7 linked regions of the Homo sapiens genome follow. The protein of the gene in region 3 purifies or fractionates together with the protein of the main gene of each other region. This does not show direct contact. Each region holds a gene or a part of one and is shown on either strand. Other genes may lie near its edges.

Region 1 (2,214 bases), on a different chromosome or scaffold from region 3:
GAATGTGTGTTTATGAAGCAGACAGGGTACTTGGGAACACAGAGGGCAGACTATAATCATCTCACATTGTCAACCCTGGGTGGGCACAAGAAAAGTGGTAAGAAAGCCTGAGCTCCTTTTCTGGGAATGCTTGGAAATAGTAGTTTGCACTGGCCCCAAGAACAGGCGCAGTGGTCTCTGAAGCCTGAGACTCTGAGTCTCACTGCAAGACTTTACCTAAAGGAGACACAGCTGTAGAGTTCTTGACATACGCTGCAGACAGCACTCCTGGAGTTGAGAGATGAGATCCAACCTCACCCAGCCCCTTCAGTCGGGGCCAGGTGTGGTGGCTCACACCTGTAATCCCAACACTTTGGGAGGCTGAGGCGGGCGGATCACTTGAGTCCAGGAGATCTAGACCAGTCTGGCCAACATAGTGAAACCCCGTCTCTAGAAAAAAAACAAAAATTAGCCAGGTGTGGTGCTGTACGCCTGTGGTCCCAGTTACTCACAGGCTGAGATGGGAGGATCCCTTGAACCTAGGAGGTGGAGGCTGCAAGGAGCCCAGATCTCACCACTGCACTCCAGCCTGGTTGACAGAGCAAGCCCCTGTTTCAAAGAAACCAACAGCAACCCCCACCCCCGCTAAATTCCAGCTAGGTTCAGTCCTAGGTCAGACTCCATGTAACTTTGGTCTTGCTTTCAGACAATGGCTTTGGCCACAGCCGTCTTGTGAAGGAAAACCTGATTGACTACTTCATCCCCTTCCTGCCTTTGGAGTACCGTCACGTGAGGCTGTGTGCACGGGATGCCTTCCTGAGCCAGGAGCTCCTGTATAAAGAAGAGACACTGGATGAAATAGCCCAGATGATGGTGTATGTCCCCAAGGAGGAACAACTCTTTTCTTCCCAGGGCTGCAAGTCTATTTCCCAGAGGATTAACTACTTCCTGTCATGAAGGCTAGAGGAAGACTTCCTGGAACTGCCTTTCTTCCACTAACAGGACCCTGGGACCTGTAGGAGCACCCCGTTTGGGACTGTGAGGTGTTTGAGGGTGTGGACTGGCATCCAGCAGCCACTAACAAACACACAACTGGTGTGTAAAAGGCAGGCCTTACATTAGAAGCCAAGCCAATCCTTTTTCTTTTTTTTGGAGGTCCCACCGAGATAGATAGGAACTTGGATTGCTGAATTCAAAAACAGAGCCCATTCTTAAGATCACTTGGTGCCTTAAAGACACGCATTCCAAAGTGGAATGTGGTTGAAGAAAGTGGGCCAGGTGGTTGAAGAAAGCCATGTGGGAGCTCAGCAAATCCCAAGGGCTTATTATGACACTCCAGATGGTCTCCTTAGCATCTCAGCTCTTCTGCAAGGAAGAGCTTGGGTGTTAGGCCTCAGAGGCTGTAGGGTCCTTGGGTTACAGAGCCGGGGAGAACGAAGTTCTGTGACCCAGGGGTGGAGAATACACTCTAGGTTTGCAGGCTGGTGGGCTTTCAAATTGGTACTTCCAGAGGAAAGCCAAGCTGCTTCTGTTGTGAGCGAATCAGCCAAGAGCCTGAGGCTGAAGGGAAAAGTACACAGAGGAAGATATTTTACAAACCAGGTCAGTGTAGGCCAAGACTTATGGTCTACAGATTTTGGCGGGGGAGGGGGGACCTTTTCAAAGACAATAGGGGGTCTTGACATGTTTGTTGTATGTAAAGATGATAAGATTAAAATTTTTGATTTTCCTAAAATCCTTGGCGTACTTTCTGTTTCTGAGACCTAGCAAAATTTCAAACAAACACTGGGTAATCCTGATAAGGCCTGGCAGAGACAGGGCAGATGCTGGCACACACGGAGCTGGCAGGGTATGTGACTGGTCTGCCTGTCTAGTCTGTTTGCTTTGGGACCACATCAGTGAAGCCAAGTCATGCCAACCTCCTACTGAAGAGACTCCCATAGCACATTGCTCTTATATATGAAAATGTTCACTCCTGTACTCTCAGCTATAAAAAGAAAAGCAGTCATTCTGAGGATTAAATGGCACCGTGTAGACATGTAGCACTGTGCCTAGACACAGTGTTCATTATGTGCCTTTCCCCTTTTCTTGGTTCTTCTCCCATGCCTCTGGAATAACACAGGTCTTTTTTCCCTATGTTTTTTATATATTAATTATACACACATATAGAGTCAGGGTGTCACTATGTTGCCCAGGCTGGTCTGGAACTCCTGGGCTCAAGCTATCTTCCTGCCT
Region 2 (3,048 bases), on a different chromosome or scaffold from region 3:
AAACCAGCAGAGATGATGACTTATAAGTCATGGAGGAAGGACGAGGTGGATTTGAAGAGAAAGCCACAAAATAGGAAGGGTGAAGGTCTCCAGTCCAAGGACCAGGTCTGGAAGACTGGAAAAACGGAACAGATGACGTTTAGGGAAGGGAGACACAGGCTGCCCCAAGGTTCAAGAATAAAGGGTAGCATAAGACAAGAGTGCTTACCCTTGGCAGTGGAGTCACACTTCTCCTTTTACAACCCCAAAGAAAGTCTGGTGTCCAGTTCAGCCCTGCTTGTGTCACGTATCCTTTGCTGCTCTGAGTCCTTGGGGCCTGAGAACTGGGACCCATGAGTCCTGCTGCCCAGCTGCTACGGGCTGAATTCTGTCCCCCTAAATTCTTACGTTGAGAAACCCCTGGAACCTCAGAATGAGACTGTACTTGGAGATTGAGCATTTAAAGAGGTGATTAACTTAAATGAGGCTGGTTAAAGTTAAAATCCAGTCCAACTGGTGTTCTTAGAAGAGGAACGTTGGGCACATAATGAAACTTAGAGATGTGTGTGCATGGAGGGAAGACCGCACAAGGACACAGTGAGAAGACAGCTGTCTGCAAGCCAACAAAAGAGGCCTCTAGGAAAAACCAGGCCTGCTGACACCTTGATCTTGAACTTCTAGCCTCCAAATGTGAGAAAATAAATCTCTGTTGTTTAAACCACCTGGTTCTGTGGCATTTTGTTATGGGGGCCCTAGCAAACTGAAACCCAAGCCTTCTGCACTGTTCCGGGATGTTAACTTTTCTGTGAACTAACTCCAAACCTCTGCTGTGTAATGTGTGAGAAACCAGACCCGGAGAATGCCTTTCCAGAGTCCAGGAGGTTAGATGGGTTGGGCTTCCCCAGCCAATTGACAAAAACGTGCCTGTGGTGGATCACAAATGCACTTGTGTGCAGTCAGAGATTGTTTCCACTCTTAGTTCCTTCAGCAAACTTCCCGACGGGCCCCAGGCCTCCTTCTGGTCTCTGAAAGCTGTTTCTAAGCTCACAGGTTCTTAGGGCGATCTCCACTGCCCGAAACATCCTCTCCCTAGCTGGAAACCACCTTCTGGATCCGTTCCCGTACTTCCTTTGGTCCCAAGGCCAACATCATCTCAGCTACAGGAGGTCCTTGCTAAGAACAAAAAGAGCAAATATTGCCTTACTACCTTAAACAGCCTAAAGAACTGAAGCTCAGCCTTAGTCTGCAGAAATTATTCCCAGGCCAGCCCCCACACTGCTGCCTGTGTTCTGAGGATCAGTGCTTGTGTTATTTCCCTGGAAAAGGATGGGTCCTAAGAGCCTGTTTCTCCTCCAACCACCGCCCTTTTTTTTTTTTTTTTTTGAGATAGAGTCTCACTCTATCACCCAGGCTGGAATACAACGGTGCGATCTTGGCTCACTGCAACCTCTGCCTCCCAGGTTCAGGCAATTCTCGTGCCTCACCCTCCCAAGTAGCTGGGATTACAGGCGCACCACCACCCCCAGCTAATTTTTGTATTTTTAGTAGAGACAAGGTTTCACCATGTTGCCCAGGCTGGTCTCAAACTCCTGACCTCAGGTGATCCACCTGCCTAGGCCTCCCAAAGTGCTGGGAATACAGGTGTGAGCCACCGTGCCTGGCCTGATTTTCCCATATTAAGTAAGCTGTTGCTAGGTCTGTTATCCCCAATAAACTGCAAACCCCATGGAGGCAGAGATTATGTATGTGTGTTTAATTCTATATTGTATTCACTGTACCTAACACAATGCTTGCACATAGTAGGTACTCAATAGTGTCTGTTGATTGACTAAATGAGGGGAGTGATCATGTTTCATTCACCTTTGTATACTCAATATTGAGCTCAGTGCCTGCCAGGAAATGTAAGTTCAAAGGATCAATGAGGGGCTCCAGGGAACAATCCAACCCGTGTCCCTGCCTCACCTGCTGTCCACTGAGGGCCATCCGAAGGAGTTTCATCACATTACTGTACTTGGTGCCTTCCAGACCTTCTGATAGCTTCTTCAGTTCTCCATTCAGCATATCCTGAGTTAAGCTCATACTAGATCTTTCTAGAAGCCTAGAAGAAGAGGGCCAGTTTACAGGGCCTGCATGGGCCAATGGCAAGTGGGTGGGAGGAAGGGCTTCAGAAGGTTATTGATCAGCTACAGTACGAGCAGCACAACCAATGTTCAAGCCTGTTTTGAGGGAGGTGAGGAAGATATTGACCACTTTCTCCCTTATCCAGGTCGGGAAGGAAAAACCACCAAGGGACCACACACAGAGAAGCCAGTGGTCACAATGCAGGGAGGTAAGAGGTGCCATAAGAGGCTTTACTCATTGCTACCTCTGTGTCATGCAATCTTTATGCCTCAGTTTTCTCATTTGTAAAGTGGGGAGAATAATAGTATCTGAGGCTGGCGCAGTGGCTCACACCTGTAATCCCAGCACTTTGGGAGGCCAAGGCAGGCAGATCACTTGAGGTCAGGTGTTCGAGACCAACCTGGCCAACATGGTAAAACCCCATCTCTACTAAAAATACAAAAATATTAGCCAGGGATGGTGGCGGGTGCCTGTAGTCCCAGCTACTCAGGAGGCTGAGGCAGAAGAATTGCTTGAACCTGGGAGGAGGAGGTTGCAGTGAGCCGAGATTGCACCATTGCACTCCAGCCTGGGTGACAGAGCGAGACTTTGTTTCAAAATAAAAAAAAAAAAATAATAGTATCTGTCCTGCACAAGGCTATCGTAGAGAGTTAAAACTTATAAAGCACCAAGTGCCTGAACACATGATAAATACTCAGAAATATTACCTTTTTTTTTTTTTTTTTTTGGAGATGGAGTCTCGCTCTGTTGCCCAGGCTGGAGTGCAATGGCACGATCTCAGCTCACTGCAACCTCCACGTTCCAGGTTCAAGCGATTCTCCTGCCTTAGCCTCCTGAGTAGCTGGGATTACAGGCACGTGCCACCACGCCCAGCTAATTTTGTATTTTTAGTAGAGACAGGGTTTTACCATGTTGATCAGGCCGGTCTCAAACACCTGACCTCAGGTG
Region 3 (4,062 bases):
GTGAGCATCTATCTTCCTTTCTGTCTCCCCCAACAAGCTGGAAGGAATGATCCATCCCTCCTCTGCCCCCAGTGTCCAGGCCAGGGCCTTGCTCAAAGAAGTGTCAGAGACGGTTGATTGAAGGGAGGAACAAGGATGTGGGTGCAAAGGGGGTGAAATGAAAGAACTAGGAGCTTCTTCCCGTGGAGAGGAGGCATGAGGCCAGACAAATGGCTTCTGAGCTTCCATTTCCCATCTGCGGAATGACTGCACGGGACTGAGAGGCCAGACGAGGGGAGCGAACGGTGGGACACTGAAAAGACTGGAGCTCTGAAGGAATTTTCAGGACTCAGCCTCCACCTGCTTGGAGCCCAGATGAGGCTGGGGCTGGGACTGTGGGCCCAGAACAGCTGGCAGGGAGGGGATGACTGGGCCCACAGCAGCTCCAAATACCTCTCCACCCACCCCACCTCAGCCTTGACTCACCAGATCAGGCAGTGGGCCACAGTCAGCACCCACTGGGAGGCAATGATGGTGCCGGCACAGATGTGTGTGCCATTGGCCCGCACGCTGACCATCCAGGGCCACCGCCGAGCCACGGCTTCTGGGTCCCTGAGGGTGGGGTCCTGCTCGTAGGAAAAGCCACAGGCTGAGGAGGAAGGTGAGAGCTTGATGAGGGATGGATCTTTCCCTGTCCCTCCCCTCCCCCAGCCTGACCTCGTGCCTCTCCAGCCACTGGCCTGCACCCATCCAGGGGTGCTCCCTTTTCACCTGTCACCATGGAATGATGCTGTCCACATGTGGACTGGAGTCTCATGCCTCAGAAGGGTCCAAGCACTGCCCAGATATCTCTCTCCCTGTTCCCACAGCCCGGGCCCTAGAGCATCCCCAGCCGACCAGCCCAGTGTACCACTGGCCCCTCTGCCGTCACCAACACACTCTCAGCTCCAATCAGATCCTTCACTAACTTGTTCTCATTTCCACCTGGTTCCACCCTCACCATGTCCCCTACTTCAGCCAAGGCAGAGCTCTCTCCCTCCTCTGGGAACCCCTTTCTGTGGCTCAGTGAGAGGAAAGTGGATGCCCCAACAGAAAAATGGGCATAGTCCAAGGAGAAAATCCCAGTAGCCAATGACCACAGAAGCTGCTCCGCCCTTAGTCTGCAGGGAAATGCAGACTGCTTCTTCTTCTTTCCTCTTCTTCTCTCTTCCCTTTTCCTCCTCCTCTGATGAGGTCTTGCTCTGTCACCCAGGCTGGAGTGCAGTGGTATGATCATTGTTCACTGTAACCTCAAACTCCTAGGCTCAAATGATCTTCCCACCTCAGCCTCCTGAATAGCTGGGACTACAGGCACACACAACCACACCCAGCTAATTTTTTTATTTTTTAATTTTTTGGAGAGATAGAGTCCCACTATGTTGCCCAGGCAGGTCTCAAACTCCTGACCTCAAGTGATCTTACTGCCTCAGCCTCCAAAAGCGCTGGGATTATAAGCATGACCCACTACCTCCAGCCTGAAAATGCAGATTTCAATCATGATGAGATTCTGCTCTGTACCATCCGCCTGGCAAAAACGCAACATCTGTGACACCGAGTGTCAGTGAGGATTATCACCCAGAATGCCTACCCACGGCTGGTGGGAGTGCTCACTGCTGCAGCCGCTTTGGAAAACAATTTCTCTAGATTGAAGATGCACATATCCAACATCTCAGGAGTCCCATTCCTAGTGTTTTCCAAATGGATTCGTGGATTGTAAATGTAAGTGGGCCGTGACCAGCCTTTTTAAAGGATAACATAGGCAAGAAAACATCGGCATGCACAGCACAGGGTACTGGAAGTCCTGTTTGGGTGACTTTCTGTGGCAGTTAAATGCTATGTGCTGAGTCCCAGTCTTATGTGGGTCTGTTAAACATGCCTGAAAGCCACTGGGCAAGAGAACGTCTTACGTGTGCACCCTGGAGACACCACAGGAAGGCTCACACAGCCTGGCCCTGAAAGCTGTGCTGGAGATCCCAGAGGTCCCTGGCTGGGAGCCTGGGTCAGAGGCATGATGGGTGTCAGGGCCTGGAGCAGGGTGAGAGGCCACCTGCCCCACAGCCAGCTCAGGCGAGGCGGGAACACACAGCCGGCCCCAGGCCCCTCTGACTTTCCTGCCCCCTACCTCAGCAGGAGGGGAGGCCTGTGAGGACAAGACACCCAGAGCTCTGGGCCTCCAGACAGGACCAGGCCTGACCCACAGGTGTTTAGTGCTCAATGAACACCTGTAGAAGGAGGCGCTCCTCTATCCTGCTCGCCCCCGTCCCTTCTGCTCCCCTAGCCCCAGCCAAGGTCCTTAAGACTCCTCTGTCACCCTCCTTGCCCCACGGAGTCTACACCCCTGGTACTCACAGCGGTATGGGTCGACTTTGCCTTCAGAAACTGGGAATTGGGTCTCCATGGTGGTCGAGGGCAGTGTCTGGGTGGTCGGGGTCTGCCAGAGAAGGCGAGGCCGGCTGGAAGGACAGGTGGCCTTGGGGACACACTGGACGCTCTGGTCGGCGGGATCAGCAGTGGACAGCGCCCCCGGGGCTTCCCCTGCGCCCCAGCAACCTGCGGAGGACGTCGAGCGGATTAGAGGTGGAAGGCGAGGGCCGCGTCAGGCGGGTGGGGTAGGGATCGGGAGGGACTCACCTGCAGACCTCAGCAACAGAAGCAGCAGCAGCAGGGCACCGGCGCGGGAGGGGGCAGACGTCCGGGGGCGCTGCCCGCGCGCGACGGTCTGGCACCAGCGACCCATCCCGGGGTGGCAGCCGACTGCGTCTCTCCGGAAGGCGCTCCCAGTGCCGCCCCCACGACGGCGCCCCCTGTTGGCCGCATGCCGCGGCCTCTGGTGAGCTGGGTGGGGATGCTCCTAGTGCCCCGCCTGCGTGGCGCCCCCCAGGGGCCACCCGCCACGGCGCTCGTGGTGTCTGACCCGCAAGGGCGCCCCTAGTGACAGCCCTCCCTTATACCTCCCGGGCTGGGTACGCCCCGGCTGACTTCCCTCCTTGGCCCCTCCCTCTCCTCACTCCGCTGGTCCAAGCAGTCTCCTGGAGTCCCTCAACTTAATCTCGGCCGATTCTCAGACCTCCTCACCCTCGCAGCCCATTGCCCTGGACTGGCTCATGGTGTCACCCCTCCCGCAGTGAGATGAAGACCAAACCTCAGGGGCTGGCATCCAGGATCTCCAAGTGACCCTACTTTCCCTCCAGCCCCTCCAGTGGGGCTTTGCCCAAGGAACTGAAATTAAGCAGATAGATGTGTTTTAAATAATGATTTTGAAAGACTGCTTCATTCTAAGCAACTACACCCCACCCCCACCCCATTCAGCAGATGCCCTTGCCCCACAGATCCATCTGCTTAGGAAAGAGAGTGCAGGCAAAGGGTCCCTCCACAGAGGAACACTGGTGCTTACCATTGCGCCACTGTGGGATGAGGAGGTCACTTTGCATGTTACAATTTGGGGAACACATTGATGGTTCAGTGACACAGGAGGGTAATACATTTAAAAAGTCATGTGGGGTACTCAAAGCTGTTGGAAAATTCTAGCCTAATAGAAGATAAGGTGATCCAGCATTGTGGCATGCACCTGTCCCAGCTACTCTCAGCTACTCAGGAAACTGAGGCAGAAGGATCACTTGAGCCCAGGAGTTCGAGTCCAGCCTGGGCAACATAGCACCCCCATCTCTACAAGAAAATATTTTTTTCTAAGGTACGGTGAAAGTTAAATCAAGCCAGGATATTCTAACATGTGTCCAGGCTTGTGGTCTTGGGATACACACTTGAGCTGGCCAATCCATGCTCCAATCTCTGAAAAGACAGTAAATCACACCCTTCAGGTGCCCTAAGGGATAGGGGTGGCTGGTTGCTCAGCACCTGAGGACCACCAGGTCTGAGCAGCCCCTCATTCCTCACACAGGGGCAAGGCTCTGTCCTCAGCTTGGCTACCTCCAGTAGCCTTGCTCGTGCTGTAGAGTCTAATGGAGGTCACCAAGGCAGCTCAGGAGCTCAGGGCATAGTGATCTCACACATTCATTACCCAGGCAGGCACTCTGCCCTATCCCC
Region 4 (3,500 bases), on a different chromosome or scaffold from region 3:
CAAATCTAACCCCAAAGATCCAGTAAATAGATAATTTGTACTGTTAGCAAAAGGAATAAGATTACTCTGCTTACCCTCAATATACTTATAGGTAGAGAGTATAAAAGAAGACAGATGGGTTTAGCTAATAAGATTAACTTAAAATCACAACTTAGTAGATTAATACAGAATTTCTAAATCTGGAGAACTGTTCTGTCCCTTAATTTAATCCAGCCCATGTAATAAAGGCCTACAGAGTTTACCAATATATAAGTATTTATTATAGTTTAAGCTTTAAGAGGCAATATGTTAAAAATATTTTAAAAATCAGAATGGTCGCTCCTCTCTGTCTACAAATAAATAGCCTGTTGTTTCTCCTTCATCTTAGTCAAGACTTTCCTGTCTGGTTTCCATTTGATTTAGAGGGAGAGTTGCTCTGTAGTTTTTAATATCCTCCTATCTCTTCCTCACCCTGATTTTTTTCTTTCCTCCCTAACATTTGCCTTATTCCACTAACAATAGACTACAATCATCCAGAGTTCCTAGATTAAAAAATTCAAAGTTTTCAGAAATAGATGAAGATTTCCCAAAATGAGTCTGCTATTATCTCAGCCCTTTTATAAATAAAGAGCTTCTGATATATAATTAGAGAATAAATTTCTCTGTACTCACAAGATTTCCCATTTTTCTGAATGATTATCAAGTAAGGCAACATGCTGAAAATAGAGCTGTGTACAATATAGGAAATATATCTGAATTAATACTGTCCACAGCAGTGGACCTGAAACTCACTTTCTTTAAAAAGCTTCTAAGTCACCTATAAGCTCTGGTCATTGCCTCTCCTTAAAAATGGAGTAACAGACAAGTAGCTACAGATGCTCCTAAACAGTGTTAAATGGCCTTCCTCTCTAATAAACTAGGGTCTCTTTTTTTCTCCTTTCCTGGCTCCTGCACTTCTAGGTTTTTATTGATAGCCAATTAATCAAGAATCTTTCCTTTCTGAAGTATTCTTCTAGAAAAGAAGATTCAAAAAGGCTAGTTCATGAATAGCTGTGACTCTATCTTATTTATATTTCAACTAATTACATGTGTGGAAAAGTATACTATTCCCCACTCTTAAAGAGGAAAAATATGAAATACTTTCTTTTCTCTCTTAAAGAATACACAGCCAGGCATGGTGGCTCATGCATATAAACCCAGCACTTTGTGAGGCCAAGGAGGAAGTATTGCTTGAGCCCAAGAGTTCAAAACCAGCCTGGGCAACATGTCAAGACCCTGTCCATTAAAAAAAAAAAAAAAAAAAAAAAAAAAAGAGAGACAGAAAAAGAGAGAAGAAAAAGAAAGAAAGAAAAGAAAAGAAAAAAGAAAAGACATGGCTGGGAGCGGTGGCTCACGCCTATAATCCCAGTACTCTGGGAGGCTGAGGCAGGTGGATCACGAGGTCAGGAGTTCAAGACCAGCCTGGCCAAGATGGTGAAACCCCATCTCTACTAAAAATACAAACAATTAGCCCTGAGTCATGGTGGGTGCCTATAATCCCAGCTACTTAGGAGGCTGAGGCAGAGAATTGCTTGAACCCAGGAGGCAGAGGTTGCAGTGAGCTGAGACCACGCCACTGCACTCCAGCCTGGGCGACAGAGTGAGACTCCATCTCAAAAAAAAAAAAAAAAACAACAACACATTACACAATCAAAAACTTTAAAACTAAACTGAGTTTAAATACATTTTTTTCAGTGAAGCTTGACAGGCATCAGTTCCCTGTTCTTTCCCTTCAAGATTTCACTCTGTTAACCCTGAAAAGAATAACCCTGATCTTCAAGATGAACCCAGGGTACTTGCCTTTCTAGCCTTCTCCATGCTTCTGTAACTAGTGCTTCAACTAGCGGGTCATGGGCCTCACCAGCAAACCTTAATAAAAAAGAAAGAATCCTCCATACATAATCATTTTAAAATCATTAAAAACATATGCAATACGAATGATAATGCAAAAGTGAAACTCAAGTTATTTTCCTCTTATACAGGCAGTCCTTATTTCTGGTCCACTCTTATTTCAATATTCTGATTTTTTGGTACAGCCTAATAAACATCTATACTTTATCCCATGCCCTCTCACCCTTTTATCTGCTTATTTCAATACCCATGCTACTGACCAATGATAATGTTCAACAATATATTTATGTTAAAAGTACATATAATATGTCTTTGTTCTGATTTAAATACTTTTGATCAGGCATGGTGGCTCACACCTGTAATCCCAGCACTTTAGCAGGCTGAGGCGGGCGGATCACTTAAGGTCAGGAGTTCGAGACCAGCCTGGGCAACATGGTGAAACCCCGTCTCTACTAAAAATACAAAAATTAGCTGGGCGTGGTGGCATGTGCCTTTAATCCCAGCTACTCAGGAGGCTACGGCAGGAAAATTGCTTGAACCCTGGAGGTAGAGGTTGCAGAGAGCCGAGACTGCACCACTGCACTCCAGCCTCGGTGACAGAGTGAGACTCCACCTCATAAATAAATAAATAAAATATTTTTATAAGAAAATGTTTGTAAAAAAATTAAAAAGCTAATAGTCACCAATCACCTTATTCACAAAACTTTAAGCATCCCCTTCAAGTACCTCAGAGAAAACAACTTTGTAACCTGAGAAAGGCCACCAAAAAACATGGAATCATCCTTTTTCAGTTTAACATCAATCCCCAATATAAGCCCCAAGCCCCTTTCCTATAAATGCCAATTCTCTTACAAAAACAACTTACACGTCTCTAACTTACGTAATGCTGATATTTACAGCCATTTAAATAACCCCTGAAGGTTGGGTCATCATGTGAGAAAACTGCTCTTTTTCATCAGTGAGACTAATAAACAGATTAGGTGTAACTTTTTTGTTTTTTCCCCCTTGTACAACTGCTGAAGCCTTCATTCAGGGAACCCAGTTCTTTTGAAGGCTGGATTTCCTTGCAAACAACATATTTCTTTTTATTTTTTTTCCTTTTTTCTTTGCTCTCTTCATTTTTTCTTCACAAATCCCAAAACTGGAATGTAATATTTCTTAACATTTATCTCTGAGTTTTTCCACTGACACCAAGGAAGCCCTTCTTTACGTAATACCTATCAACCATCCACATAATTTGTATAACATTGTTATCAAATATAAATGAATCTACAAAATCATTTTATTTCTTTTTCCTTTTAAGGGCTATTATTGAGAAACAACCTATTGTACCAATACCCCCTAGAAAACATATGTGCCGTCCATTTAATTACAATAACGAGATTGCAAACAAGTTATCACAGACAAAATTTACTAATTGCTGATTGTTATTAGGCATTACTTTTTTTTTTTTTTTTTGGAGACAGCGTCTCACTCTGTCGCCCAGAATGGAGTAGAGTAGCATGATCTGTGCTCACTGCAACCTCTACCACGTGAATTCAAGAGATTCTCCTGCCTCAGCCTCCAGAGTAGCTGGGATTCCAGGTGCCTGCCATCACGCCCAGCTAATTTTTGTATTTTTAGTAGAGGCA
Region 5 (3,500 bases), on a different chromosome or scaffold from region 3:
TGTGCAACATAACAAGACCCTGCCTCTGTGAAAAAATTAAAGGCATGGCGGTTCATGCCTGTAGTCCTAGGGAAGCGGAGGTAGGAGGATTGCTTGAGCCGAGCAGTCTGAGACTGCAATGAGCCATGATCATGCCACTGCACTCCGGCATAGCTGACAGAGCAACAGTCTGTCTCTTAAAAAAAAAAAAAAAAGGCTGCAGGGTGTGTACAGGGGATTATTACACTATTCTGTTTGGGTTTGGGTTTGAAATTTTCCAAAGGAGAAGATTTAAAAGAATAATAACAGAAAAACCTATAGAATATGCAGTTAGGATGTCTGAAATAGAGATTTTGAAGGTGGTACAAATAATGGTGCTGAAAATAAGTGAAACTATTCACCGTATGTTTGAAAATATAGGAATCAACTAAAGTACTGAAAGGTTTTTAAGTTTGGCCGTTTGGGATATGGTACAACCTCTTCCTCAGAGGTCTTTTACTTTACTACTAGTCTCCCCCTACACCAAAGAAAGGCAAGTGCTTTAGTGCTATGCCTGGCACCTAATAGGAAGCACTAATATTATCTTCTCCTTAGAAAAATAATAGAAAATAAAAATAAATTTTAATAAAAATAGAAATAAAAAAATTTAATTAACTGTACCTCTTTACCCCTCCCAAGGAAGCAAAACACCATCTACTCCAGCTCTGCTATCTTCCTAGCTTCAAAAGCCTAACGTTGCCAAACCCTTTCCCTACCTTAAAGAGTCTATGAATCATCACAAAACCCAATGCTCCAGAAAGGAGGCAAAAGTAAGTGAAAAAGGAAGCTACTGTCCTTGTACAGTCCTATTAAGAATCACCAGTATTATGTGTTTTAATTATTGCTGTTTTATAAATTACTTCTGAACCTGGCACAGTGAGGCTCCCGTTCCAGTTTTGAGAAACTATTCCTTACTCTTTATGCCTGTGTAGCTTTTCAGAGGTACTTCAGGAACTACCCTGGGAAATGAGAGTTTGGGGGACCTGGAGAGGACATGAGAGGGCGGGCTGGGGGCCTGGTTCAGGACTCAGGTCCTCACTTGGTTTGTTCTCCTTGCCCTTGGAGGTGATGGTGAGGGTGTGCACATACAGCCGCAGATACCAGGGTACGGTGTCCAGCAGCAGCACCGGGAAGGCCCGGTATGGGTGGGTGTTGTACAGCAGTGTGCTCAGCTCCCCCTTCTGCAGCCCATAGCCACTCACGTACCGCTGGGCATGCAGGAAGGGCACTGGGGGGGCCTCTGTGTAAAGAAATATCAACAGTTAACAGCTGCCAAAGGTAAGAATCACTCCCCACCCCACCTGCCCAGGCCATGTTCAGAGTCCCAAGCCAGTGAGTAGATGGGGAACAGCCCTGCCACTGAAACTGGGCAATCTGGGTTCTGGAATCATCCCTGTCTTCCCCAGCCAACAAGCGATGATGACAATAGGTTGCTAGTATTGAAGTGCTTACGTGACGAACACCGTGCCCCCTTCGAACCCAATCCAGGTCCTCTCAGGATATTCTGCTCTTTCCCTTGGTAAGGGAACTGAACACAACTGTAATTAATTAACTGACACCTGCCCTAGCTAGTAGACTTATATTTCTTGAGTGCAGTGTCCTCTGTCTTATTCAACACTCTATGCCTGGCACTTAGTATGAATTCAAAAGTATTTGGTTGATTAAGCAAATGCATGAACTAACTCCATTTTTCACATCATCTCATCCAATTTGCTAAGTATACTCTATTTTTCAGATGTGGATGCTGAAGCTTGGGGAGTTTAGGAACCTACCCAAAATCGTAGAGCTTGGAATAGCTACAGTCAGCAGCATATGACTCTGGAAATCTGGTCTAAATACAACCCAATCATCTAACGGCAAAGACGTGGGATTGTGAGTCTTTTCTCTGTAGCCGTTGCAACCCAGCAGTCCAACCAACCACCCACTCACCATTCTCTGGGGGTCTCTTCCACTTGAGCTGGATGTTGAGGTTTCGAGAGTTGTTGATCATGGCGGTGTCAAGCAAGTCATAGATGGCATAGGTCTTCCGAGTGCCTAGGATGACGTCCTGATATGTAGTGGTCGGGGGTGGGTGCACCTCTAATGTCTCGTTGTCCTGGGGACACAAAGGCAGGGCTAAGAAGCAAGCAGAGAGGGTAGGCTGGTCCTGGGGACCAGCGGTGTGTTTGTGTGTGTGGCTGGAGACCTTGTTACCTGGTTGTAGGTGGTGATGTCCACATAGACTCGGCTCTCTGAAGCCAGGGGGCAGGGCTCCGTGAGGGTTCGGGAGAACATCCGGAAGAGGGACCAGTCTGAGAAACAGAGCGCAGGGCTGAGCAGGGGCCAGGCCTAGGCCTAGTCCACATAGATAAGGCAGGGCTGGCATGGGTGGGTACAGATGAGTTGCCAAGGTAACTTACCTTTCTTTCCCTGCCCCGTGATGAAGGCATCAAATACAACTGACAGGGTCTGCCTCAGCTCCCAGGAGATGCTAGTACAGCGTGCATTCTATCACAAGGGCCAGATGGCAGCAGTGAGGGGGTATCACTCTCACCACACAGCCCCCAAAAAGACTCCTACTCAGACTCAATCCCTCATCTATGTATCTTCACATCCATCGATTTGCTACCACCCACTCCTGAGCACTTGACCTCGTGCCAGACCCCGTGCTGACAGCTGTATGTGCATCAGTTTGATAAACTATCACAACAACCCTAGGAGTGGATTCTACTATCAATGTCATGTGGCAGGGTGGGAAACCAAGCTCAGGGGAATGAAATGATTCACCCAAGGTTACGCCAGCTGGCAAGTGACTGAGCTAGCAATTGCACCCGCATAGCTATTGTTCTGAACCACTATTTTCCATGACAAATATTTATTCAGTGCTTGCTAGGCAACCACTGTTTTCTTGGTGCTTGGCCAATGCCCTGAATAACCGTCATCACATCTACCACTCAGTACTCACTCAGCCTGAGCCAGACACTGACCACATGCTTTACATGTACCTTCTCTGAGCCCCTGGATGGCAGCTTCCTCTACTCCCCATGACTTACTCTGCAAACAGGGCGGATATGCACTGCCTGGGAGTGGTAGCTGGTGTGGAACAAGCGATCTGCCTTCAGCAGCACAGAGAGGCCTGCCTGGAGGAGATGGAAAGAGATAAGAGAAGCCCTGTATGGAGCACTTGGCATGGGGCGCAGGTTCTCTATACACCCCCCGCCCCCGGCTGCCAGGCTCTGCGGCCTCACCTTGGAACTACAGGGCAAGAGCTTCTTCCAGGGGGTGAGGTTTTCGGTGCAGACCACCTCCCGCGGCAGCACAGCATAGCGCAGAAAGTAGTGGTCAGTGTCTGAGGGAGACAGAGGTCTGTCTGGGGTGGGCCTTGGGCTCTGACCCCTCGGGATCCACATTCCAGAGATGGGAATGACCCTCCTGCTCCCCACACCACCTCTAGCACCACAGTCTGGACAGTCCCAACTGGGAGTAGGACTCCCTTCTCTCCT
Region 6 (3,500 bases), on a different chromosome or scaffold from region 3:
CTGGATGTTTAACCTTTTGAGAAGCTGCCAGCCTTTTTCAAAGCAGCTGCACCATTTTACATTCCCACCAGCAGCATATGAGGGCCATGATTTCTCCACATCCCAGTGAACACTTAACTATTATCGTCTGTCTTTTTAATTACGACCCTAGTGAATAAGAAATGCTATCTCGTTAGAGTTTCGATTTGCTTTTTCCCTGATGACTAATGATGGTGAGCATCTTTCTTGTGCATGTTGGCTATTAGTATGTCTTTGGAGAAACGTGTGTTTGGATCCATTGCCCACTTTTAACTGGGTTGTCTTTTTTTTTTAATTGGGTTGTAATGGAATGAACAGAGGCATGGGGACAGGAAGCAGAGATCCTGGCCTGTGAAGAGCGAATGGCCTGTCTCTTCCTGAGCTCAAGAGTCAGGTGCCTGATCCAAGAGTGGGAAAAGATTGAAAAGATGGAGGCTGGGTTGGACTCACATGACAGTTGATTTGAGGCCCTTAGTAAGTCCCAGAGACATAATTTAAGAGAAAGACTTAATTTAGAGAACCATTCAGATTTTTAGGCACGGAAGTAAAAAGATCAGGTAAAGCTGTAGCAATTACTGTATTTTATTTACCTACAAAAATAATTGAAACAGCAGAGACGTCTATTTATTCAGTCATTTTCTTCCCTTTTTAAAAATTTTTTCTTTTTTCAGACAGAGTCTCGCCGTGTGGCTCAGGCTGGAGTGCAGTGGTGCAGTCTTGGCTCACTGCAACCTCTGTCTCCTGGGCTCAAGCAATTCTCCTGCCTCAGCCTCCCGAGTACCTGTGTTTATAGGCGCGTGTGACCATACCTGGCTAATTTTTGTATTTTTAGTAGAGATGGGGTTTCGCCATGTTGGCCAGGCTGTTCTCAAACTCCTGACCTCTGGTGATCCACCCAGCTCAGCATCTCAAAGTGCTGGGATAACAGGCATGAGCCACTGCGCCCGGCCCCCTTTTTAAAAATTTGTTTTTCTTTTTTGTTCATTTACCTATTCTAAGCCATGCTGGGTGCTAAGGGCAAAGATACATCAGAATCAGTTCCTGCCCTCAAGTTAAGAGATGGATACATTAAAACAGATCATTATTATTATTATTTTGTGGGGCGGACAGAATCTCACTCCGTCACCTAGGCTGGAGTGCAGTGCCTCGATCTCTGCTCACTGCAACCTCCACCTCCCAGGTTCAAGTGATTCTCGTGCTTCAGCCTCCTGAGTAGCTGGGACCACAGGCATGTGCCACCACGCCTGACTAATTTTTTCTATTTTTGGTGGAGAGGGGTTTCGCTGTGTTGCCCAGGCTGGTGTTGAACTCCTGAGCTTAAGTGATCTGCCTGCCTTCACTTCCCAAAGTGTTGGGATTACAGGCGTGAGCCACTGCACCCAGCCGAGAGACAACTTTTATAAAGGGAACATAATTATGACTGGTATTTGGGGTTCTGTTGTATCGGGGGTTTTGTTGTTTCTGGTATTTGGGGTTCACATTGTATCTGGAGTAATTTATCATGTTTTTCCCTTAGCTTGCCAAGAAGTATCACCCTGACACAAATAAGGATGATCCCAAAGCCAAGGAGAAGTTCTCCCAGCTGGCAGAAGCCTATGAGGTAATATGACTTCGGTGCATGCGGTCACTGCTGTTCAGCTATGTGTATGAATCAAAGGTTGCATTGCTACCTGGGACAGCCTGGTGTGTCATACAGTCCAGTGTGAAGGCCATGTCCCTGCGCCAAGTAATCTTGTTAAGAAAAATAAAAAAAAAGAGATTCCAGGCCAAGCATGGTGGCTCACTCCTGTAGTCCTAGCACTTTGGGAAGCTGAGGCAGGAGGATCACTTGACCTCAGGAGTTGGCTTGACCCTAGGAGTTTGAGACCAGCTTGGGCAATGTAGTAAGACCACGTCTCTACAAAAAAAAAAAAAAAAATCACCAGGCGTGGTGGTGGCGCACCTGTAAACCCAGCTACTTGGGAGGCTGAGTCAGGTTCATCACTTGAGGGGCTCAAAGCTGCAGTGACCCATGATGCCATGATTGTGCCATAGAACTATGGTCTGGGCAACAGAAAAAGACCTTCTCTCAAAAAATAAAAAATTAAAAAAAAAACAAAACAACAACATTCTAAGACTAACTTGGAATCTCAATGAAGAACAGGATCCAGGCCAGGCGTGGTGGCTCATGCCTGTAATCCCAACACTTTGGGAGGCCGAGGCAGGTGGATCACCAGGTCAGGAGATCGAGACCATCCCGGCTAACACGGTGAAACCCCGTCTCTACTAAAAATAAAAAAAAATTAGCCGGGCATGGCGGCATGCGCCTGTAGTCCCAGGTGCTGGGGAGGCTGAGGCAGGAGAATGGCGTGAACCCGGGAGGCGGAGCTTGCAGTGAGCTGAGATTGCGCCACTGCACTCCAGCCTGGGCGACAGAGCAAGACCCCGTCTCAAAAAAAAAAAAAAGAACAGGATCCAATAATCTGTACTAATAAAGTTCCCCAGGTAATTTACACTTGTAGCTGGATTTGGGAATTCACAGTTGGATTAATTAATTCAGCCCTTATTCAATGACATCCCCTTCCTCCACCTCAGGGCATCACTGCTTTTTGGGGATAGAGGTTATTGTAAAAGTAGAAGCCCATTATTGTCCTATAAGAATGTCAATGTAATCAGAGGACAAAGCATACATCTCTGAAAACAGCTATTGACCCCACTTCCATAGTTTTCTGAAAGTAGACCTTTTTCCCAGATTTTTTGACAATCTTTTCTTTTTTTTTTTTTTTTTTTGCTTAAGAGACAGGGTCCCTCTATGTTGCCCAGGCTGGTCTTGAACTCCTGAGCTGAAGAGATCCTCCTGCCTCAGCCTCTCAAATTGCTAGGATTATAGGTGCAAGGCACCAGACCTGCCCGACTTTGGCCATCCTAAAGGGGTTCAGTATATATAGGAGCTCATATATCTATAAGAGTAGACAGCCACGTAGAAGAACAGGCTCAACTCAGTAAATCTTTTTTGAGTAAATATCTGTCAACTAGATCTAATGAAAAGTTTATTTACTAGTGTAATTTTAAAATAATATGTTCTTATTAGGTAACTCAAACTAATTGATAACATAACTAAACAGTCTTGGAACCTGCTTCTATGGAAGATAAGATTAATTTTTTTTTTTTTTTCAAGAGTTGAGGTCTCAGCCAGGTGCAGTGGCTTACGTCTATAATCCCTATAATCCCAGCACTTTGGGAGGCCAAGACAGGCAGATCAGGAGGTCAGGAGTTTGAGACCAGCCTGGCCAAGAGACCAGCCTGAGCAATATGGTGAAACCCCATCTCTACTAAAAATACAAAAATTAGCCAGGTGTGGTGGTGGGTGCCTGTAATCCCAGCTATTCAGGAGGCTGAGGCAGGAGAATTGCTTGAACCCGGGAGGCATCAGTGAGCCGAAGATTGCGCCATTGTACTCCAGCCTGGGCAACAGAGCGAGACTCCCAATCAAAAAAAAAAAA
Region 7 (3,500 bases), on a different chromosome or scaffold from region 3:
GCCATGATTGTGAGACCTCCCCAGCCATGTGGAACCGCGAGTCCATTAAACCTCCTTTTCTTTATAAGTTACCCAGTCTTGAATATTTCTTCATAGCAGTATGAAAATGGACTAACACACCAGTCCTTGAGGGGCTACTCTTCCAGACTTTCCTATATAGCCCCACTGTAGACCCCTGAGGAGGAAACTGGGCTAGGGTCTGAGTGGGGATTTAGGGATGAAAAGCAGCCTTTTCTACCCGTCAGAGCCATCAGCAGGCCATAGCTAAGGCAAGTTTGTAGGCAGGATATAAGACACTGTGCTTCTCACTCTTCATATCTGTGTGCATATGGACCCACATATGTTGGCAGTAAATTCTCCTTAGCCTTTCAATCTCCTTCCCAAACTCAGCCATTTTTCCATTATTTTCTCCTTGTTCTGCAACCTAGTGGCCTTCCTGGGACAACATAACTTTGTGATTAAGACCTTGAACTTTGGAGTTAGGTTTAAAGACTGGAACTTAACCTGTGTTTCCTCATCTGTGCAATGGGGTAGTAATGGTACTTATATTATAGACTTATTGTAAGGGTTAAGAGGCAAAAAATAAAATAAAATTTAGAATAATTCCTGGTATACAACAAATGTTCAAATGGTTGTTGTTTTTATTATTTCCTCTGTCTTTCTTAAGCCCAGTCAAGTATGTGAAATTTGCATCAAGAAAGATGGGCAGTGAATTGAATTCCTATAAACTTGACTTGGAGGTGTGTGTGTATGTGTGCAAATACAGAATTGCTGTATTTATAAATTTTTAAACTAATAAACTTAACCACTTACTGGTGGGAAAATGCACTAAAGAAAATTTTTTAGAGTTAATAAGGAGTTCTAATGTGTTTTATTTCTATCATAGTCACAAACATAACAATGGTCAGCCCATTTGGTTTACCCTGGGCATCCTGGAGGCTCTCAAAGGTTGGGACCAGGGCTTGAAAGGAATGTGTGTAGGAGAGAAGAGAAAGCTCATCATTCCTCCTGCTCTGGGCTATGGAAAAGAAGGAAAAGGTAATAGTATTTCTGTATTTTTCTTACTATAGCACTAGAGTTGTTCTCTGGATTAGGAGACAGAAGTTAGAGTCACTATAACTTTTTTTTTTCCCCTGGAAGTTAATAGGGGGTATGTATTCCTTTAGCAACTGTATTATGTCTTGAGTATCAATTGAAATGGCCAGTTTAAGGCCGTAATGTCTAAATGGGCAACTATGCTAACAATAAAAAAAGAACATTGAGGTCTATTAATACTGTTCACAAATATGGTGGGTTGTTTTAATTGTGATAAAATATACATAAAATTTTTCATTTGAACCATTTTTAAGTACACAGTTCAGTGGCATTAAATACATTCATGTTATTGTGGAACCATCACCACTATCCATCTTCAGAATGTTCTCATCTTCCCAAACTGAAACTCACCAATTTACTTTAACAATGCAGAGAGAAAGATCCATTAACGTAAGTGTTTGGATGAGTTGAACATGTGAAATATAGATTATTAAAGTATTGAATGCATTTTAGATGTGGGTTATATATGGGTTGTACTTCATGAATATTAAGTCTCCCACAGCAAACTGGGAGTTCTTTTCATTCCCGTTTTTAAATTTATTTATAAAGTTTTTAACAATGTATTTAAAAAAAATCATAGAGTGACATGAAATGAATTTAATTCTCCCTGTGTCACAAAGCAGAAGCAAGCTGGCTAGCTGGTCCGGACAGCTTTTGTACTAGTTTTTCAGGGCAGACACATATCCTGCTGTTCAAGTGAGAACCCCTGCAACTTTCCAAAGAGCTGCTTTGTGATATATATCAAGAGGTCTGGGCCAGGCATGGTGGCTCACACCTGTAATCCCAGCACTTTGGGAGGCCAAGGAGGGTGGATCACTTGAGGTCAGGAGTTTGAGACCGACGTGGCCAACATGGTGAAACCCTGTCTCTACTAAAAATACAAAATTAGCTGAACGTAGTGGAGTGCACCTATAATCCCAGTTACTTAGGAGGCTGAGGCAGGAGAATTGCTTGAACATGTGAGGCAGAGGTTGCAATGAGCCAAGAACGTGCCACTATACTCCAGCCTGGGGGACAGAGCCAAACTCCATCTCAAAAAAAAAAAAAGAGGTCTGAAGATGTCTATATGCATTTATTCTATAATTCCTTCAAACCTAAGGGAATAATTAGATATCAGGAAAAAAATTTGTGAACAGGGATGTCCATAATTGCATTGTTTCTAAGCAAAAAATTGGAACTGTCGTAAGTGGTATACTGGTAAGAATTTAGCTAAATAAAATATGGCCCAGTTATTTAAAATGGCATTTCCAAAGAGTTTAAAAATTATATCTGAAATGCATGAGATACAGTATTATATATAAAAGTAGAAAATAAACCTATAGTATATATGATAGTAAATATAGGAAAAGGTACATATACATAGAAAGTTAATCATAAGGAAATAAATAAGAATGTTAAAAATGGACTGTGATACTGGGAATCATATTTATTTCTGGTTTTATCATCCAAGTATGTGCTCTACAATGAGCATGTATTACTTACATAATGAAGAAAAAAAAGTTTAAGTAGTCATCAGAACCAGACAGACAACTACTCTGATATAGTATAAATATAGACTTCATAGCATCCTGAAGTCTAAGGTTAACCACTGACAAAAGTGAGGAGTCAGGATTCACAGCCCATTTCCTGAGAAGGAAAATAGATGCCATATGGCAAGCATTATATATTCCAAAATATACAAATCTATACAAATCTTGTTCATAGGATAAGATTAACTAACCAAATTCAATTCTTCTTTTAGTCATAATCCTCTTTAGAGAAGAAAACCAAGTATCTAGAAAATTTTTTCTGATGCTGAGAATGTTTTCATTTTATCTTTATTGTCTCACCTTTAATATTTACATACAGTAGTTCCCCTTTACCTGTGGTTTCACTTTCTACCGTTTTAGTTACCTGTGGTCAACTGCAGTCTGAAAATATTAAGGTATTTTGAGAATGAGAGACAGATTGCATTCATATAACTTTTATTATGATATGTTGTTGTAATTGTTCTATTTTATTATTTTTAATCTGTTACTATGACTATTTTATAAATTAAACTTTATCACAGATATGCATGTATAGGAAAAAGCATTGTATGTATGGGGTTTGGTACTATCCATGGTTTCAGGCATCTAATGGGATTCTTGGGACATATCCCAGTGGGGACTACTGTACGTTGTATTAGTCCATTACTCTTTCTCATACTATATTTAACTCAAGTTTACTTCACAATAAGTAGAGATCTAAATTTGAGTCATTTCCTTCAAACTGAATGCCATGAAACTAATTTTTCTAATCTGTATTTAACACTAATTTTGTAGTCTTTTAGTACATGCTTGCATGCCTCTTTTGGAAAGATACCAGTTTTATCAACAACCTAGCGCATGTCACATCTCTGTCTAGATCTGAAATGGTAAGCTTCA

What was found.
Region 1: the proteins of PRSS50 (region 3) and TOR3A purify together in Homo sapiens (affinity purification with mass spectrometry; 2 studies listed by BioGRID and IntAct, with this or other methods). This does not show direct contact.
Region 2: the proteins of PRSS50 (region 3) and EARS2 purify together in Homo sapiens (affinity purification with mass spectrometry; one large-scale study listed by BioGRID and IntAct). This does not show direct contact.
Region 4: the proteins of PRSS50 (region 3) and FASTKD1 purify together in Homo sapiens (affinity purification with mass spectrometry; one large-scale study listed by BioGRID and IntAct). This does not show direct contact.
Region 5: the proteins of PRSS50 (region 3) and PIGT purify together in Homo sapiens (affinity purification with mass spectrometry; 2 studies listed by BioGRID and IntAct, with this or other methods). This does not show direct contact.
Region 6: the proteins of PRSS50 (region 3) and DNAJA3 purify together in Homo sapiens (affinity purification with mass spectrometry; one large-scale study listed by BioGRID and IntAct). This does not show direct contact.
Region 7: the proteins of PRSS50 (region 3) and FKBP14 purify together in Homo sapiens (affinity purification with mass spectrometry; 3 studies listed by BioGRID and IntAct, with this or other methods). This does not show direct contact.

What each region holds. Positions count from the first base shown.
Region 1 is NC_000001.11:179,094,283-179,096,496, forward strand, and holds the end of TOR3A (torsin-3A precursor), read left to right. Parts: intron 1-685; coding exon 686-936; 3' UTR 937-1,714; downstream 1,715-2,214.
Region 2 is NC_000016.10:23,523,303-23,526,350, forward strand, and holds part of EARS2 (nondiscriminating glutamyl-tRNA synthetase EARS2, mitochondrial), read right to left. Parts: intron 2,078-3,048; coding exon 1,942-2,077; coding exon of another isoform or gene 1,825-1,941; exon of another isoform or gene 1,718-1,824; intron 1,153-1,717; coding exon 1,069-1,152; 3' UTR 1-1,068. UniProt on the Homo sapiens protein: Non-discriminating glutamyl-tRNA synthetase that catalyzes aminoacylation of both mitochondrial tRNA(Glu) and tRNA(Gln) and participates in RNA aminoacylation for mitochondrial protein translation.
Region 3 is NC_000003.12:46,715,070-46,719,131, forward strand, and holds the start of PRSS50 (probable threonine protease PRSS50 precursor), read right to left. Parts: upstream 2,801-4,062; 5' UTR 2,756-2,800; coding exon 2,650-2,755; intron 2,569-2,649; coding exon 2,368-2,568; intron 629-2,367; coding exon 466-628; intron 1-465. UniProt on the Homo sapiens protein: May be involved in proteolysis through its threonine endopeptidase activity.
Region 4 is NC_000002.12:169,567,366-169,570,865, forward strand, and holds part of FASTKD1 (FAST kinase domain-containing protein 1, mitochondrial), read right to left. Parts: intron 1,888-3,500; coding exon 1,819-1,887; intron 1-1,818. UniProt on the Homo sapiens protein: Involved in the down-regulation of mitochondrial MT-ND3 mRNA levels which leads to decreased respiratory complex I abundance and activity.
Region 5 is NC_000020.11:45,419,141-45,422,640, reverse strand, and holds part of PIGT (GPI-anchor transamidase component PIGT isoform 1 precursor), read right to left. Parts: intron 3,347-3,500; coding exon 3,246-3,346; intron 3,169-3,245; exon of another isoform or gene 3,138-3,168; coding exon 3,051-3,137; intron 2,506-3,050; coding exon 2,418-2,505; intron 2,310-2,417; coding exon 2,212-2,309; intron 2,114-2,211; coding exon 1,948-2,113; intron 1,259-1,947; coding exon 1,058-1,258; intron 1-1,057. UniProt on the Homo sapiens protein: Component of the glycosylphosphatidylinositol-anchor (GPI-anchor) transamidase (GPI-T) complex that catalyzes the formation of the linkage between a proprotein and a GPI-anchor and participates in GPI anchored protein biosynthesis.
Region 6 is NC_000016.10:4,435,868-4,439,367, forward strand, and holds part of DNAJA3 (dnaJ homolog subfamily A member 3, mitochondrial), read left to right. Parts: intron 1-1,534; coding exon 1,535-1,618; intron 1,619-3,500. UniProt on the Homo sapiens protein: Modulates apoptotic signal transduction or effector structures within the mitochondrial matrix. Affect cytochrome C release from the mitochondria and caspase 3 activation, but not caspase 8 activation.
Region 7 is NC_000007.14:30,020,203-30,023,702, reverse strand, and holds part of FKBP14 (peptidyl-prolyl cis-trans isomerase FKBP14 precursor), read left to right. Parts: intron 1-886; coding exon 887-1,038; intron 1,039-3,398; exon of another isoform or gene 3,399-3,490; intron 3,491-3,500. UniProt on the Homo sapiens protein: PPIase which accelerates the folding of proteins during protein synthesis. Has a preference for substrates containing 4-hydroxylproline modifications, including type III collagen. May also target type VI and type X collagens.